2 linked regions of the Homo sapiens genome follow. The protein of the gene in region 2 purifies or fractionates together with the protein of the main gene of each other region. This does not show direct contact. Each region holds a gene or a part of one and is shown on either strand. Other genes may lie near its edges.

Region 1 (3,829 bases), on a different chromosome or scaffold from region 2:
GTGATTGCAAGTGGTGGAGGAGACATGGGTAAAATGCATATATGTCTCTCTTATAGTAACACTGTCTAAAAAGGACAGAATGTGATTACTATAATACTGATAGAGGTGAGGTACTTTAGGAACACAATGGGAAAAGGGGAAAAGGAATGTTAATTCTGACTTAATGACAGCTTGTTAGAAGAGGTGGCACTTCGGCTGGGCATGGTGGCTCATACCTGTAATCCCAGCACTTTGGGAGGCCGAGGCAGGTGGATCACCTGAGGTCAGGAGTTCGAGACCAGCCTGGCCAATGTGGAGAAACCCCATCTCTACTAAAAATACAAAAAATTAGATGGGTGTGGTGGCACGCGCCTGTAGTCCCAGCTACTCGGGAGGCTGAGACAGGAGAATCACTTGAACCTGGGAGGTGGAAGTTGCAGTGAGCCAAGATGGCGCCACTGCACTGCAGCCTGGGCGACAGAGTGAGACTGTCTCAAAAAAAAAAAAAAAAAGAGGTGGCACTTGAACTGGGGCTCAAAGAGTGATTTAAGGTGTCAGAAGGAGAGTAAGGTCATGATAATTTTGTGAAATGAAATAGGCTTTGGCAGGTTTATATCTTAGAGTGTGTGTAGTAGGGTGATCATTATAGTTGTGTAGTAACCTATTGTAATATTCTAATGGGAAGCTCAATATGTGGACTTAATTCCCTGAATGAGGCCACTGCTGAAAAACTTTGAGCCAGTGGTTTGATCATAGCTGTAACTTAGAGCAGAATATTGATGCCTATAGTTTTTTCCTTTTTTTTTTTCTTTTTTGTTAGATACCCAAGTTCTTCGATGGATCTAGGATGCCTTTAGTTTTGTTAGTATGTTAGACTTTTGGTAATACAAAATGTACAGTCTTTTAGGAAAACTGCAGCTTGTATTTTTCTTCTTACAGATAAGGCTCAATTACTTGAAATAGCCAAAGCTAATGCAGCTGCCATGTGTGCTAAGGCTGGTGTCCCTTTACCACCAAACCTAAAGCCTGCACCTCCACCTACTATAGAAGAGAAAGTTGCTAAAAAGTCAGGAGGAGCTACTATAGAAGAACTAACTGAGGTAAGCTAGACAGAATTTGTTTTCATTCTTAAATGGATTATTCCAGTGATGTTGACTCTGGAGCGTGCCAAAACCCGAATTGTGGGCAGAACTGATAATGGCTGGCACCGAGTGGCCAAAACCCGAAATACAGATGTGGCAGCGGCAGAAGCTCTGTTTAGCAGGCCATTATCCGGGATGGCTAAGCTCCGCTAGCTAAAAGTTACTTCCCATTACTTTTGCTTTCCAGTTTTAGAAGCCAAACTGACTGAGGAGTGGGACGGTTCGTTTGAATGGAGGAGGTGTTGAGTGAGCAACACGCAGAAGCTCGCCTACAGTTTCGTTTCCATTCACGACGCGTTCACTGATCGCCACGAGTATACTGCATATACGCAAAGACACAGACAATCTTCAGAAATGATCTTTTGCCACCGGAGCTTGGAAATTAATAAGAATAGCTGGCCATTGCCTGAAAGGAACTTCTTTCGCATCAACATTTCGGGTTTTGGCTGTTTGGTACCAGCCATTGGCGATAATGGCCGGCCATTATCAGTTCTTCCTGCGGTTCGGGTTTTGGCAGTAACATATATATTTTAAACACACTTATTTTTGTTTTTAAAAGTTTGATCTTTTCAATTGAGGCTTTTTTGGGGCTTTGTTTTATTACTATTTTTTTGGTGTGGGTGGATGGGGGGAGATGCTAAAATATTGCTGCTAGGATCCAGAAATACCACACTGTTTCATATATTGGAACTTGTTATTGGCTAGCCTTATGCCAGCCTGCCACTGTCAATATATTCTGTTCCCCTTGGTTACAAGCTTAATATACTCTTGTGTTTTTGGCGAAATGAGCTTTTTATCCTATTGTAATATTTTCAATTGATAATAGATGTCATTAAATCTACTGCTTGTATAGAGACAGGTGTACCCAAATTTACTCTTGACCTTTTTATAAAGCCAGGTAATGGAGTCTGTTCCTTTGCATCTCAGGAAGGAATTGACTTTGCTTTATGTATCAGACCTCATCAATTGCACCCTCTCCATCATGCCTTATTTTCCTAAGTTCTCCTTAAAGAAACTCAACCCACAAAACATTTATGGAGAGACATGTTGCTATCTAATCCTGTTGCAAATATTTCAGATCTTTTGTTTTGCCATACATCTGGGAAAATGTAAAGCTTCTGAATCTGTTTCCTCACTTAGATTTATTACAATATGAATTACAACTTTTTTTAAAAAATTAAGGACCTTGTAAACGCTTCTATTGCTTATTTACCTAATCCAAGCTCCTTATCCAAAATGCTAAGGACAGTTAGTATTTTGCTGTTTTCGGCCCCATCTTCAGCCTTCTTGTCCCAAGTTTCTTCTCACCTTTTTACCACCACCTGACTAGGATGACTTCTCCTTTCCCTACCAGTCTTTGTTCTTTACTATGAAAATCTGGCTTAGAACTCTTCAAGGAATATTCCTTGATTCTCTAACTCTGCCTGACTATTCTCTCTTAAGCCTTTGTTCTTTTAGCACTTATGTACTCAGTTTGTATTATATCAGTTTGCACTTGTTATTGTGTTGCTCTGTAAAAGTGTTCAATTATTTCATGTATATGTATTCCTTCTCTTGTACTAGATTGTAAGCTCCTTGAGAGCAGGGACCATGTCTTCTACTTTTTTTTTTTTTTTTTTTTTTTGTATTCCCCAGACAGTGCCCAGTACAGTGCTCTCTCTGCACATAGTAGGTGCTCAATAAATGTTGTTGACTGACTGACCAGCCAGAGTGTGTTTAAATAGTAGTTAATATGCCAAGTTACGTATCTATAACCTATCATGAATCTTGTTTAACTTTGGAAAGTTGCTATTATGTGGTTTTGATTCTAAGAAATTACATGTTCTACATAAAGCGTAAGATTTATCTTTTGTTTGTTTTTACTTTTAAAGAAATGTAAACAGATCGCACAGAGTAAAGAAGATGATGATGTAATAGTGAATAAACCTCATGTTTCGGATGAAGAGGAAGAAGAACCTCCTTTTTATCATCATCCCTTTAAACTCAGTGAACCCAAACCTATTTTTTTCAATCTGAATGTGAGTATTAGTGCTTATGGATTGGTAAAACAGTGTAACTTGTGGAACTATTTAAATAAAACCCAAATCGAATTTAGTTTATTAATTTTTGTTTTAAATACTGTGAGAAATAATGGATAATATCATTTCCTTCAGATTATGTAGAAAATCTCAAACCATTTAATGTAGATATCATATTGAGCTTTAATTAAGAAACACTTTATTTTTTAGATTGCTGCAGCAAAACCAACTCCACCAAAAAGCCAGGTAACATTAACAAAAGAATTCCCTGTATCATCTGGATCTCAACATCGGAAAAAAGAAGCGGATAGTGTTTATGGAGAATGGGTTCCTGTGGAGAAAAATGGTGAAGAAAACAAAGATGATGATAATGTTTTCAGCAGCAATTTGCCCTCAGAGGTAAGTAGGAGGAATATTATGTATTTTTCCTTTTTTATACCTGAATCTGCCATTTCATTGTTATGTTATGTCTGATTTGGATTCTGTTTCACTCTTCTTAGGGCCGGGTTAAACGGCAGGGCCGGGTTAGACGACAGATGAAACAACCCGCAGCTTCTCATTTGACAGTAACTCGATGCAATTCACTTTGTGGAACCAAGCCACAAAGTGAAAAGCATCGAATTGCAGAGAACAGTGTTATCACATCCCTACCCAACATTGGGCCCTCCCTGCACTTGTGGGAAGGTAGTC
Region 2 (3,829 bases):
TCAATTTTTCCCCATATGGATATTAAGTTATTCCAGAACCATTTGCTAAAAAGACTTTCCATTCCTAATTGTGTTGTTTTGATGTCATTGTTAAAAACCAACTGGTTGTACAGTATCTACTTTTTGGACTTTTGTTTTTTCCATTGATTTATTTACCCAGTATCCTAATGCCAGTATCATACTGTCTAGATAACTATAGTTTTAAAGTAATTCTTAAAGTCAGACAGTATTAGCCCTTTAATTTTCATCTCCTTTTTCATGGCTGCTTTCAGCTATTCTAGGTCTTTTACATTTCCAAATATATTTTCAAATCAGCATGTTGATTTCTATCAAAAAAGTCTGACATGGTTTTAACTGGATATTCATTTTATTAAATCTATAAATCAGTGGTTCACAAAATATGGGCTATGAACCATCAGCATCAGCATCATCCAGCAACATGTTATAAATGCAAATATTCAGGCCCTACCTCAAAACTAATGGATCAAAAACTCTAAGCTTGGGGTCCAGCAATCTGTGTTTTAACAAGTCTTTCAGGTGATGCAGATGCAAAATAAAAGCATAAGAACTACTGTGGATCAGTTTGGGAAGAATGAATACATTAGCAATATTGTACATTCCAATCCATGAACAGATACTTCTCCCCATTTATTTAGGTCTTATTTAATGTATCTTACCAACATTTTGTAGTTTTGAGTACACAGATCTTGCACATGTTTTGCTCACTAAATTCCACAGTATTCTATGTTTTCTAATACTGTTGTAAATGACATTCTAATGGCTGCTGGCTAACCTTTAGCAATAATATATAGGAGATATGAAAGAAAGTTTATTTGGAGTTGGGTATTCACTAAAAGATCTGGAAAAAAAATCTAGTTTCTGGATCCAGTTGTCAACTTGGAAGGAAAACAGTGGACAGAGGAACATGATGAAGTGCACCAGGAACATAAGATCAGCAAAATCTAGACTGTGGCAAATTCTGTAGGCCAACTGGGCTGGGTATTTTAACACATAAATTTCTAAGGAAGTAAAAGAAATGGAAGAGGATAGACTGAAAGATTTAAAACAAATACGAAGTTTTTACGAAATGGACAAGTCTAAACTATAATGTACATTTAGGTGAAAAAACTATTTAAAATGAGAGGAAATGATTACTATAAAAGTTGGCTTAAGGTTTTCTTTTGTCAAGAGAGAGAAGGTTGTGATTAGGATGGGATATATGGGGCTGAAGTAGATGGCAAAGTTGTGTTTCTTGACCTGGGTGGAATTTGCCTTATAATTTCACAGCTTAATAACTAAATAAGCTATTTTTTTGTTACGGTTTATAAATATATGTTTTACTTTACATTAAGAAAAATTTTTTCCTCTTAATATGATGTATCTAGAATTTGGATTTGAAGAGTGTAAAAGTTACAGTGGTAAGAACTGTGTTTGATAAAAACTAAAGTGTGCCTAATGAAGTGGTTGTTCACTTGAGGCAGGGATACTAGTATGGATGAAGTCAAAGAACTGGAAAGCTAAAATTTGGGAAAGCATTGAAAGGAGAAGACCATATTCCAGGTTCTAATCTCGACCATCAGTAAGGTAGACTGGCTTGGATGTTGGCAAACATAAAAATGATGGTCAGGTACAGAGAAATACACATGGATTACAAAGGTCCTCCACTCTCTTGGGTCCACAAACAAAGACTATTTGGGGAAGCAAGAAGCAGTTGAACTCACTTTCTTTATGTGGGGCGTGGGAAAGCGAGCACAACTTACTTCAAGGAAAAAAAGGAACTCACTATCTTGCAGGCACAGACGGATTTCAGTTGAGGTTCTGTGGTAGAGAAAGTTTCCAGGAAAATATTAATGGTGAATGGTAATTTGCTAACAAAGAAACAGAAATTCCTGAAACACAATGGAAAGGGCCAAGAGGAAGGAAAAGAGTGTGTGTGTGTGTGTGTGTGTGTATTAGGGAGGGTACGAAGCAGCATAAAGAACAATGTGATTGATAGTACACTTAAAGGGAGGCAACAAAAGAGGGCTCATTTTGGATAATCAAAATTAACAAGAGTGAGCTCAGGGATGGAAGGACTTGGTGTGTTCTGGCTAGAGATTGTTTGAGGTGCTGAAATTACCTAAAATTTACAGAAGTTGTGCCTGAGGCCCAACTATTGCAATTGCCTCCATTAATCACTTTGCATATTAATGTTTCTATGAATAAGGCTTTCAAAGTTCTGAGGATGGATGAAGCAAATGATAACAGTAGCTCTTATTATGACCAAGAGAAGGAGAATCAGAAGGCTCTTCAATCCATCCTTCACTGTAAACTACTGGGCATACTTCTGAATCCTGGATCATATTGCCTTTTATTTTTTCCCCCCAAAACAGCTTTTATTCCAAATTTTATCAATGTTGGAAAGAAGGGTCTGCGAAAAGTAGGCCAAGGCAGAAGCAACATACAAAGCTAGAAATGGGTCAAGAGATGTACTCAGTCAGACCCTGGCCGAATGAACATTAATGGGTTCAGTATATGACAAATGTATGGAGCAAATAAACATAAGCATGCCAGTTGAGGTATCATCATTATCCTGCTCTAGAGCACTCCACTTCCCAACAAATGGGGATTGAGTACCGGAGCCCATTTATGTTGTCATCAGGGCTTGTAGTAGTGACAGAATAGGCAACAGAAGAGAGGAGGGAAGTCCTAAATAGTAGAAGAAAGGGAATGCCTCTAGACAAAAAGTAAACAAGGCAGTACACTAATGCATTTAGAGACTCTCCTTTTATGAAATTACTTCTTATAAAATAACTTTAGAGGTCTTTACATATTTTTAAAATTAAAATTATAATTTTTATAAAATAATCTATATAAAAATTATATTGTAAAACATATATACCATAGCATTTCTATGTTTTTTTATTGTTTATCACTGACTACAAATTTTTTAGTTTTAAATAAAAAGTCAACTAATAATTACTGTTATAAAATAATTGCTAATTCTGTATTTTAAAGTTTCTTTGGATACTTGATGGATTTAAATACATAATATTAAGGGAAACATAAGAGCATGATTTGGACAAGACAAAGAGATTCAGTGTTTCTCAAACTTTTCCACAAAAGCTTGAGTATTGGCACAGAGAACCCCCAGGGCCCAGGGGAAATAACCTGGTGCAAACTGCTCCAAGTTCAGACTTTCTACAGAGTGTTTTAATTTTGTTTTAAATTTTTATTATTTCACTTTAAAATTTATACAAATTTTGTTATATTCCATAATATGAGCATTTATTTTATCATATATTATTTTATTAATAATATAGGTTTATATATTAATTTATTATAAAATGTTTTAAGTTATTTTCTGTGATGGAATAAAATCAACACTTTGAGAAAATACATCATAGTTTTTCTGAAGCTTCGTATATCCTTGGGAATATATACTCCTAAATGATATCCTCCTTGTGTAGTCTTACCTCCATAGTAGGTGGAGTCTTTCTTGTTCTTCTAATCCAAGCTAGAAAGAAAAATAATATTTAAATGTCAGTTTCCCATAATTTACACAAACATTTTTATCCATAAAACAAATTTTTTTGAGTACCTACTCCATATTATTTTAGGTACTGGAGATACAGCAGGGAATAAAACAGATTAAGTCCCTTCTCTACTGTAGCACATGTACTACTGAAGGGGTTGCAGAAAATAAACACACAAACATATGGTTGGTGGTGATATGTGTCATGAAGAGAATATAATAGTGTAGAGAAGATAAAGAGGGGACAGTTTCATATGTTTAAAATCATACCTCCTAATCATCTAAATTCGACTGGGTATATTTATGGCATACAAG

Evidence for each region.
Region 1: the proteins of NDUFAF2 (region 2) and SON fractionate together in Homo sapiens (co-fractionation; one large-scale study listed by BioGRID). This does not show direct contact.

Annotation. Positions count from the first base shown.
Region 1 is NC_000021.9:33,556,238-33,560,066, forward strand, and holds part of SON (protein SON), read left to right. Parts: intron 1-918; coding exon 919-1,079; intron 1,080-1,308; coding exon of another isoform or gene 1,309-1,314; exon of another isoform or gene 1,315-2,829; intron 2,830-2,992; coding exon 2,993-3,139; intron 3,140-3,349; coding exon 3,350-3,538; intron 3,539-3,639; coding exon of another isoform or gene 3,640-3,829. UniProt on the Homo sapiens protein: RNA-binding protein that acts as a mRNA splicing cofactor by promoting efficient splicing of transcripts that possess weak splice sites.
Region 2 is NC_000005.10:61,098,659-61,102,487, reverse strand, and holds part of NDUFAF2 (NADH dehydrogenase [ubiquinone] 1 alpha subcomplex assembly factor 2), read right to left. Parts: intron 3,497-3,829; coding exon 3,456-3,496; intron 1-3,455. UniProt on the Homo sapiens protein: Acts as a molecular chaperone for mitochondrial complex I assembly. Complex I functions in the transfer of electrons from NADH to the respiratory chain. The immediate electron acceptor for the enzyme is believed to be ubiquinone.